2 separate regions of the Homo sapiens genome follow, and region 2 is linked to region 1. The links come from fine-mapping of genetic effects on gene expression. A gene starts in region 1. The other region holds a variant in brackets. All regions are shown on one strand. Distances are between the middles of the regions.

Region 1 (5,366 bases):
GTGTTTTGTTAAAAACATGAGTCAAATCATGTTAACTCCTTAAAATCCTCCACTGGTTTAAAATTCAAAGTCCTCCTGAGATCTGACCCCTGCTTACCTCTCTGACTTGTTTCCTACAACTCCTCCCTCTGATTTCAGCCACTGTCATTTCTTTTGTACCTCAAACAGGCCTAATTGGTACAGCCTCAAGGTCTTCCCATTTTCTGTTGCCCTTTTTTTTTTTGAGACTGAGTCTTGCTCTGTCGCCAGGCTGGAGTGCAGTGGCATGATCTCGGCTCACTGCAACCTCCGCCTCCCGGGTTCAACCAATTATCCTGCCTCAGCCTCCTGAGCAGCTGGGATTACAGGTGCCCGCCACCATGCCCAGCTAATTTTGTATTTTTTGGTAGAGAGGGGGTTTCACTGTATTGGCCAGGCTGGTCTCGAACTCCTGACCTCAGGTGATCCGCCCGCCTCGGCCTCCCAAAGTGCTGGGATTACAGGTGTGAGCCATCGCGCCCGGCCCTTCTGTTCCTTCTAATTGTAGCACGCTTTCCCCAGATATTCTCCTGTCTGGCTCCATTTCAGCATTCAAGTTTCAGTTCCAATGTTACCTCCCAAAAGGTCTCTCAACCTCCTTGACCTTTCTAGCTAATGTCCCCCCTGCCTTCAGTTTCCGTCAAATGGCCTCGTTCAGTTTTCCTTCTAGTGCTCATCATAATCTGCAAGTATCTTGTTTCCTGACTTGTGGGGAGTTTACTGTCTGTCTCTTCCACACTTGAGTGAGAGTGTGGGCTACAGAGCAGGGGCTGTTTCTGTCTTGTTCAGCTGTATGCCCAGTGCCCAGCAGTACCCACAGAGCCTGGTGCATACATGACAAACACTCAGTAAGTAGTTGTTGAATGAATGAATAAGTGAATCAATGGGAGAATGAGTGAATGAATGGAGACAGGAGATTCACAGGGAATCTCCTGCTGTAGAACTATAGACCAAAGTGGGGGCTAATGGTGGCTGAGGGTCAAGGCCCTGGTCGACCAATAGCTGAGATCTCAGCCCTGAGGCCTGCTCTGCGTCTAAAAGAGGCCCAATGGGTGGATGGAGGAGGTGCATAGGGCTGACAGTTGCAGAGACCTGGGAGGGGCTGCGGAGGCACCTACCGCTTCTCATTTCCGTATGATTTCTGGGCCACCTTGGCATGCAGGATCCGCACAGTCTGTTCACACTGTTGCTGCAGGCACCTGCGCACGCCTCCCCTCAGAATGGTGGTGTGCTCTGGGGATGACCTGGGAGTAGGGCAGGCAGGTCGACCAGCCACAGGAGGGAGAAGGGTCAAGGTGGCACAGGGTCCAAGCACTCAGGTTGAGTAAAATGAAGTGAGCAGGGGGTTAGAGTGAGTGGGAGGGTGGGGCTGCTCTATATCCTGCCCCTGTGGGGTCAGGAAGAGGAAGCATTAGGTAAGGAGGAGACTTGGCTGCAAATTGTAGGCTAAATATTTAGGCTGCAAGGTGCTCAACGAAGCCTGCATGGAACCCATGGGACCACCCAGGTTCCACTCTGTGGGTCTGGCATCATGCCCATTGGAGCCCAGGGCCATAGGGACACGTGGCTGTGACACAAAGGCTGCACTTATACTGGCCTTGGGATGGAGAAGAGTATTTTAGGGCTGATGGAATTGGTAGAGATGAAGCTTCCCCACCCTGGGGAAGGCAGGGTGGGGGGTGAGGAGGGAGGGGAAGGGAGAGCCTTTCCTGGGCTCCTGGCCTGGAGCGCTCTCTAGCCTCCTGCCTGCAAACAGAAAAGGGCCCAAAACCTTGTCCTCAGGATGGGGGATGGCCTGGGGGAATCTGAGCCTTTCTGGGGCCAAAGCCATATTCTTCCCTTTCTCCCATGAGAAGTGGCCTGTTGCTGTGTGGGCTTTCCTACCCTTGATTACAGGAGTCAAGGCAGATGACATTGGTCCTGCAGAGTGAGCCAGGTTAGAGCCTAGAGGTCTGGTGGCTTCTTAACCTGGGGGTCTTGAGCGGTGTGGGTGGGTAGGCCCGAGCAATTGCAGGGAGCAAGTAGAGGAGGGGAGGTGGGAGAGATTTGGGGGGTTAGCAGGTTGAGGCCCAAGGAGAGCCATGAAAACTGAGGCTGTCCTTCTGAGCCCTTATTCCTCTTGGCAGGACCAGAGTCTCTCCTCACTCCTGGAGGGGACAGCGCAAGACCGCACCCTCGAAAGCCAGGCCAGACAGGCAGCAGCCACAGCCAGGACCGCTCCACCCCTTGGGGCTCTCCTCAGGGAAGTGCCTTCTAAGCTTCCAATGAATTCCGGCTGTGGAGTGTGGCTGCCCCGGTCTCCCCAGTCTCCCGCTGTAGCTGAATTCCAGCCTGGCCCGCAGCTAGCCCTGTCTGCAGCTCCAAGCGTGGTAGGAGCAGGGGGTGCTGGGTTTGCCCCCCCTCAGGAGGAAGGGGGGATCCCTCCCTGCCAGTGGGAGGGGTTGCAGCCTGCACTTCCCCTCCCCACCCGCCAGCCCTGGGTTAAATGCGGCCGTTGCCTCTGTGTGCTCCAGCTGCCTGGCAGTCCCCACCTAGGGCACGCTGCCACGCCGCCGTTACCTGGTCCAAGTGCCCGGGAGGCTCCGCCTGTCGGCTTCGCTCTGCAGCTGCATCTCTGATCTGTCCTGCAGGCTCAGGTGAGTCAAAGGATTGGGAGGCACTGAGGGGTCTGCAGGGGAGTAGGCATCAAGCCAGGTCAGGCGAGTGTATTTTAGCAGAGACGCTGCCTAGGGTGCCCTATCTGATTTGCAGTGCCCTTCCCCACTTCTGCAGGGTCCTTTCCAAATCGAGCCCCCACCCTCAAAGCCATCAAAATAGGATCATCCCTTTTCTACTCTCATCCCTCCAGGAACCCCCTGAAATGTCCCTAAGGGACTTTTGAGAATTTATTTACAGGCCTCTCCTCCCTTGCTGCTCCACTCCCTCAACCTCACCTCAGGGCATCTCTGAATCTTTCTTTTTTTAATGCAAGGATTAACTCCTCAGAGGAATCCCAGGTTCTAGTATCAGTCCTGCCACGACATCGCCATGTACCCTTCAGCAAGACACTACCCTCTCTGGACCTAGTTCCTTTCTTTGTAGAATGAGGGGTTTGGAAAGGTGATGAACTTTGAGGCATTTGCTATTTTGACTTTCTAGGATTCCTGGGGTGGAGGCAGGGTGCCAGGTGAGAAGTTGGCTCAGACCAAGAATGGGATGAGGGGAACCTTAACCAAGATTTAGGGGCCCAGAGGCATCTCCGGGTAGGAAAGTATGGGAGGTGGCAGAGGCCCCTTGTGCCTTAGCCCTCATGCTGTCCAGGGATGTTGGCTTTGCCTGTGGCCCAAGCTTGACAAGGGTTCCCCGCCCTCCCACTTCCACCAGCGCTGCCACATCTTGCTTGGTCACCCTCCCACGACGGGCCCTGCCAGAGGATTTATGTTCTTCTACCAGGCCTGGGAGGGGAAAAGGGAGAAGAATCCGGGATGAGAAGGTCGCCTGGAGTGAGAAGCAGGCACTGGCCTCGCTCAGAATAGGCGCATTCACGGAATTGGGGGGCGGGGGCGGAGCTGCTGTTGGGTTAGGGGCAGCTGGCCCTCTCTGCCAAGAAACAGCAACAGAAAAATGGCTAACACAGCTTCAGCATGGGGCGCGGCGGTGGGGTAGGAGCTGGAAGGAAATGAGGTTTAGTGAATTCTAGGCGCCAGGGGGCCTCAAGAGAGAGAAGGGGAACCAGGAGCCCTAGGTTCTAATCCTGCTTTTGCAGTTCGGCGGGCTGCCTCCTTGGGGCTTAGTTTTCCTATTTGTATAGTGGGGAGGGGGTGGGGGGGTGGTCCTTCGTAGTTCTCACGGGGCGTCTCCGGGGCCTCGGGAGGGTAAGCGCTCACCTGCTGCCCCTGCGGGGTCCATGGTGGCTCCACGGGGCCCCAGCCGCTCACCCGCCGCCCTCTGGACGAGTCCAGTGCTGCTGTCGCTGGAACCCTGCACACCCCTGCTCCTCGGCTCTTGCGCGGGTTATATCCTGTCCAGGCCTTATCTCCAAGGCCCCGGGCCCCGGCCCCCTGTTTGCTCGGGGTGGGCGCACCTGCTGGGCAGATGTGGGCTTCCCACGCCCCCTGCCATCTCGGGCGCCCCCTGGCGGTCGCTCCTGAGAGCAGGCGGGAAACAGGCGCCAAGCCGCGCGTTCTCGTGCGCAGTGGGTTTTGGTCCACTCGCTGCCACGCCACCACGCTCAGCCCCGCAACAGGGCGCAGCCCCTCCCTGCCGCCTGCGGTTGGGCAGTGCATGTCTGTGTTTGTGTGTGTGGAGGGGTCTGGGGGGGTTGGCGAGTTGCAAAGACAGCCACACAGAAGCCTGTGTGCGTAGGGGAGTGGGCCGAGGTGGGGAAGGGCTTCTGTCTGCAGAGGTTCGCCTGGCAGGAGGAGAGGCACCAAACGCCCAGGCTGGCTCACAGAAACTAGCAGGCGTGGGATTGTATCCTGCCGCAGCCACTTTTTGGCCGAATGACTTTGGGTACCAGCGCTTAACTTTTCTGAGCCTCAATTTCATTGTCTGTATGATGGGGGACAATCACAGCCTTAGTCTTACAATTGCAGAGAGGATTAAATGCCACAATGCGTGAAGAGCATTTAACACTGTGCCTGACATTTAAGGAAGACCTGTTTTTTTCTGTTTAAATTTTGCATATTTGTATCTATGTATCTATTCTTATTTACCATTCTCTTGTGGGCCGAGCGCGGTGGCTCACGCCTGTAATCCCAGCATTCTGGGAGGCCGAGGTGGGAGGATCACCTGAGGTCAGGAGTTTGAGACCAGCCTGACCAACATGGCAAAACCCGCTCTCTACTAAAAATACAAAAAATTAGCCAGGTGTGGTGGCAGGAGCCTGTAATCCCAGCTACTCGGGAGGCTGAGGCCGGAGAATCGCTTGAACCTGGGAGGCAGAGGTTGCAGTGAGCCGAGATCATGCCACTGCACTCCAGCCGGGACGACAGAGCAAGACTCTATCTAAAAAAAAAAAAAAAAAGAATCTCTTGTGTTTCCCAGCAATCCCACTGTGATGAGAATTTTTTAATTCTGAAACATTTCAAACATACACAAAAATAGAGAGATTAGTAAAATAAACCTGTAACTGTCTTCCCCCTCCAAGTGCCTATCACCCAGAATAAGAGCTCTGTAAATACTGTTGCTTTTCTATTTTCCTTCCTCCCTCCAGGCTCTGACACCTCCATTCTCTGTCCCCAAGCGCCATGAGAGGCCTTCTTTGCTGGCCCGTGTTGCTGCTCCTTCTTCAGCCCTGGGAAACCCAGCTCCAGTTGACAGGTGAACTGGGGCCCAGCCCTCACCAGTGGGAGGAGGGGAGCGGAAGC
Region 2 (5,366 bases), 600 kb after region 1:
ACAGGGTGATTCCTATAGGCTCTGGTGTCAGATGAGTTACCAGAGTTCAGGAGACCCCACTGAGTTGGAACCTGTTGGTCAGAAGGGAGCAGGCACCAGGGCAGGGGTGGCTTTGTTCTGGACCAAATATCTCTTGGAGTAGGAAGACAACAGGTTAGGTTATTCCCTTCCCATCCAAGAGCACCTTCATCAGTCAGGATATCCAGGCTCCAGGGACTTAGCCCTCACTGTCTGAGTCCCTACAGATGCCATTATCTGCCTGATTTATTCATCCACCTGCCCATCGACCCACCTGTCCATCAATCCACCTGTCCATCAATCCATCTGTCCATCCATCCATCCTTCCATGTTTGTCGGTCCATTTGTCCATTCATCTACCATTTGGTCACTCATTCCATCCATCCATCAATCCATCCATCCATGTATCTATTCTTCCATCCAACCATTCATTCATTCATCCATCCATCCACTTATGCATTCATTCAGCAAACACCGAATGTAATAGGTCATTCCCTACTATTAAGAATAAAAACTAAGGTCTCTGTCCACAATGAGCTCACAGACTAGAGGGCAATATAGAGACAAGCAAAGAGATGATTCCAGCACAGTAAGTGGGAGATACTAGGTACTGAGGGTGAAGAGATGGAGGACCTAACCCAGCCTGGGAGGTGGAGGAGGTGGTTTTGAAAGGCTTCCTGGAGAAGGTGACACCTGAGATGAGTCTTGGAGCAAGATTAGGAGTTGTCCAGGTGAAGAGGAAAATAAAACAGAGCAGCAGGAGAGTACAAAGGCCTGGAGGTGGCCTGACAGCAGGAGCTATTTGGGGAGCTGCAAGTAGCTGAGCCTGGATGAAACCATGAGAGCCAGTTGGAGGTGGGGTGGGATGAAGCTGAGAGGCTCTGTGTAGTTGGGGAGGACATTTGCAACTGGAGGTAGGAATGGGGACTGAGGCCTTGGGCACATCCGAGAACTATTTGGAGAGGTAGAAAGCCTCTGGGTCAGGCATGGGAACTCCAGGTTCCTTCCTCCCTTCTACCCCTGAGGGATGTTAGGCAACTCACCTGGCTTCTCTGGGACTCAGTTTCCCAGCTGTGACGTGACAGGTTGCCCTTTTAGCCTCTTGGGACTCTTCCAGCTCTGAGGGAGCTCCTGAGTCACATGTGGTCAACAAAACCAATGCCCACGTGAACATCTGGTCTGGCCTTAGGAGGGAGTTAATTGTTCCCAGTCTCTATGTGTGTTAGGGGGAGGGTGGGGGGAGGCCTTGGTCAGGGGGACCTTGGTTAGGAGCCACCCCCGAGGGGCTCCCAGTCATGGGATGACAGGACATGCTGAGAAGGGAGTGAGTCACTGGCCAGTCATCAGCTTGGGCCCCAGGGTCTCGGGGGGGCAGGGGAGCCCCATTCCCTGCTCATCACAGAGCCTCCTTCTCAAGATGGCTGACCCTTTGTTAGAGCAGCAAAACCCCATGCTACACTCTAATATTTAAAACAGGCCCAAGGACAGTGGTTTGGGATGAAGCAAATGGTGAGAGCCCTCACCCAGAGCAGCCCCCAAGGCCCCACCGAGGAGCCCCTCCAAGTCTAAAAGTCCAAACACCCGAGTCCCTCAGCAGGAGTGACAGGCCCAGAGTCAGTAGGGACTGACTGGAGCTCACACAGCACGTTCATTCGCTTCTCTCCTCTCCTGGCTCTGACACTGCCCTTCCCCGCTCCTGAAGGATGGAAGATAAAGCCAGGCTCCTCCACCATCCCCTGCTCTCTGCAGAGCCTCCCTTCCCTCGAGGAGGTCACGTGTCCGGTGCCAGGTGGCTCCTCTCAGCTCAAGCCCATGGTGGCTCCTTGGCAGCACCATAGGAGACATAGCTGAACCATGCTCTGCCCCGGGCATGACCCCTGCAGAATTTGCCTCCATCTCTGGGTCTGTGTCTTCACCTTTTCAATGGGAAGAGTGAGAGGCTGGGATAACTAGCATGGCACAGGGCTTATTATGTGTCACGTGTATATGCAATCCTCACAGAAACCCCCTAAAGGAGGCATCATTATTATCCTCATTATACAGGTGGGGAGACTGAGGAACCAAGAAGTTGAGTGACTTGCCCAAGGTCACATAGCCAGTAGGAAGCAGAGCTGGGATTTGAACCCAGGTGGCTGGCCCTTGAGTCCCTGCTCTCACTCATTGTGCTATATTGCCTCTTAAAAGATGACCCAAAAGCACCTGCTAGTTCCTGCTGCCTGGCATCTGGACAGGAAGATAGAGGTGATTCAAGGGAAAGGGGGAGAAGCTCTGCTCATTTACTCACTATGTGACCTTGGGCCAGCCACTTCCTCTCTCTAAGCCTCAGTTTCCAAGGTTTGTTGTGAGAATTAAAGGGCTGGGGCAGTGACATTCAGGAGATGGTAGCAGTGATCGTGGTTAGTATTCCTTCAGTACTCACTCCTGCCCCACGGCCCCCTGCGGACACTCTCTTTGGGTGGGGAAGAGGTGGCAGCTGTAATGGAGACCTTTTCTTCCATCTCTGAGCTACCCGGGTGTGTCCCCAGGAGAAGTTTCCCCTCAGATCCCCGGAAAGGACCAGCAGGGGAAAGTCTAGCCACACCCTATCTC[C/T]TGGGCGCAGCCCCTGCTCCATGCTCAGATCCCGAGACCTGGTCCCCTTACGGGCCAGTTCACTATCAGGGACCGGCGTGGGCATATGGGCTGCCCAGGCGGCAGCTAGGGGCATCTAGACCAGCTTCCAGAAGCCCAGGGTGGAGGGCACGTGGGACAGGAAGACCCCAGTGCCCCACGCCACCAGCCCCATCAGCTCCCCTAGCCCCAGAGAAAACACTTCATTACTGGAAGCCCAGCCAGGCGGAGGGGGTGGAAGTAGCCTTGTTGAAAGAAACCGCACGAGGTCAGCCAAACCTCAGCCCCTCTTGGCCAGCAACCCACAGATCAACCACGTGGGGCTGGCTCTCCGGGTGTTTACGGAAACACTGGCCCTGAGGTCAGCCCAGCTGCTGGGCTGGGATCCCCTGGGACACCCCCAGGCCTCAAAGTGCCAGCTTGGCAGGAGTCTTCAGAGGCTGCAGCTGGGGCCTTATTTGCCTCCACAGTCCACCTGGGAAGTGGAGCGCAGAGAAGCCCGGTGGGCAGTGGAGATGGGCCAGGTCTTCAGGCTTCCCTGGACAGCTGCTTGAGCTGGGACCAGGGGCCAGACCCTTTCCAGACACCCCTGGGAAAGGGACATCATCTCGGGAGAGGGACATAGAAAGTGGACTGTGGAGGCAGATGGCCTGGGTTTGAATTCTGGCTGTGGCCCTCGCAGGCTCTGTAACTCTGAGCAGTTTACTTAGCTTTTCTGTGCCTCAGTTTCCCCATCTATGAAATGGGAATGGTGATAACAGTACATACTTCACAGAGGTGTTGACATAATTAAATGATTTTAGTAAGTGATCTAAATAAGTGATCACTGGCTGGGCGCAGTGGCTCAAGCCTGTAATCCTAGCACTTTGGGAGGCCAAGGCGGGCAGATCACTTGAGGTCAGGAGTTCGAGATCAGCCTGGTGAACATGGCGAAACCTCATCTCTTAATACAAAAATTAGCCGGGCGTGGTGGCACATGCCTGTAATCCCAGCTACTTGGGAGGCTGAGGCAGGAAAATCGCTTGAACCTGGGAGGAAGAGGCTGCAGTGAACCAAGATTGTGCCACTGTACTCCAGCCTGGAAAGCGAGACTCCATCTCAAAACAAACAAATAAATAAATAAATAAATAAATAAATAAACACAATTTTAAAATAAATAAATAAATAAGTGAGAATTTAATAGATGATCCAAGTGGTGTGCTTGGAACAGTCCTTGTCACAAACTAAGTGCTACCCTTAGTGCCGCCGCATCCTACCTAGTGGCCTCCCTCCTCTGAGATCCTCCTGCTCTGTTCAGGTTGGACCGCGTGCTCCTCTGAACTCCCAAGTGTTTGTTATGGAAATCTCTTCCACTTAAACGTTTGCTGAGCATTCCGACCATGAATAATGAGGAACTGAGGTTACAGAGACAAATCCAGTTTAGATCCTGCTCCAGGGAGCTTCAAAGCTAAGGCAAGGATGGGAGGTGAGGCCTGTGCGCTTGGGCAGGGTGACTATAATCCCTAATTATAGTCTCCATGGTAACGAACTGGGGTAACTAATTGGCTGTCCAATGTCTGTGTTTGTGGGAGCAGGGGCTACATGGTCCCTCCACTGCTCCGTCCTGGAGACCAGCTCAGAGACTGGCACCAAGTTGCTAATGACCGCCTGGCACTAGAAGGACTACATGAACACCCGATGCGCTTGGAGCCCTGGCCAAGCTGCCCACACTGAGCCCGTGGTTTCCTTCACCCTCAGCACCTTAATGGAGTAGGGCGTATCATTCTATGTTCAGAGAAGCAAACTGAGGCTCAGAGACGCCAGCCCAATGTCCCACAGCTGGCGGGAGATACAGCTGAGGCTGAACCCACATCCAAGTTCAAAGCCTGCATTTTTAGCTACTCAGCCATACATGATCTTCCTGCAATGTCAATGTAGTATCAAATTACACAGCAACCCTCAGCCTGGGAGTTCAGAGGAGCACCCAGCCTGACCCAGGAGGATCCAGAGGAGGGGAGGGAGGACTTTCCAGGCAGAGGGATCCACTTGCAGAAAGGCGGGGCTGGGCCGTGCGCTGCTCCCAGCGACCTGTGTGTGGAATAGCAACAACTGTGGTGTGCAGGTCTGGGGTGTGTGAATTTTGGGAGCAACAGGTGGTGGGGTTGAGGAACATCTGCAAACAGCCTTGAATACCGGGGCAGGGTTTTAGACTATCCTGTGGGGTAGGAGTCCCCAGAGAGTTCCAAGCAGGGCCTGCATGTGGCCAGGATGGAAGATGAATTACAAAGAAAGGAGTGAGAGGCTGGGAGAAAACCTATTTGCTCAAATAACAAGGCTCAGTATCATTACCATGGAGGAGCTGTCTCCCCTAAATCAAAACTTGCCTGCCTGGAGTTCCACTTCATTTTAAACAATGTGTGCATGTATTGGGGGGTCCCAGAGCCTGGGCATGGAGCAGCTAGGCTTCAAGTCCTTGGAGCCCCGAAATATGCCTTCCTTCCCACCCCAGCCCCAGCGCCTTCAATGCCTTCCTCTGGGGTTAACCCCATTGTGGCCACAGTGGCTGCCAGCAGGGAGGAGGCACAGAGGTGGTGGGAACAGGGCTGAGGGGCACACAGGATCCTCAGCAGCCAGCTTCACCCCCCAGCTTATCCAGGATTCAGACAAGTCCAAGTTCAGATCTTGGATCTGCCATAGACGTGAGATGCGACCCTGGCTGGGTGCCTTGAGGTCTTGACACCTGAGCTACCACACTGGTCACA

The links.
Region 2: its variant is fine-mapped to the expression of MATN4 in minor salivary gland (GTEx, PIP 0.94).

What each region holds. Positions count from the first base shown.
Region 1 is chr20:45,305,463-45,310,828 of GRCh38, reverse strand. MATN4 (matrilin 4) reads left to right here and starts at 2,530. Exons shown (of 10, transcript NM_001393530.1): 1 at 2,530-2,654; 2 at 5,213-5,319. The coding sequence starts at 5,247. It overlaps RBPJL (recombination signal binding protein for immunoglobulin kappa J region like), which reads right to left and starts at 3,989. Exons shown (of 12, transcript NM_014276.4): 1 at 3,885-3,989; 2 at 2,578-2,686; 3 at 1,137-1,262. The coding sequence starts at 3,906.
Region 2 is chr20:44,700,587-44,705,952 of GRCh38, reverse strand. No RefSeq gene overlaps it. Among named protein-coding and RNA genes, the nearest start is that of CCN5, 12 kb to the left of the region's middle. RefSeq lists an enhancer at 3,077-3,156. The variant C/T (reference allele first, on the strand shown) is at 2,608.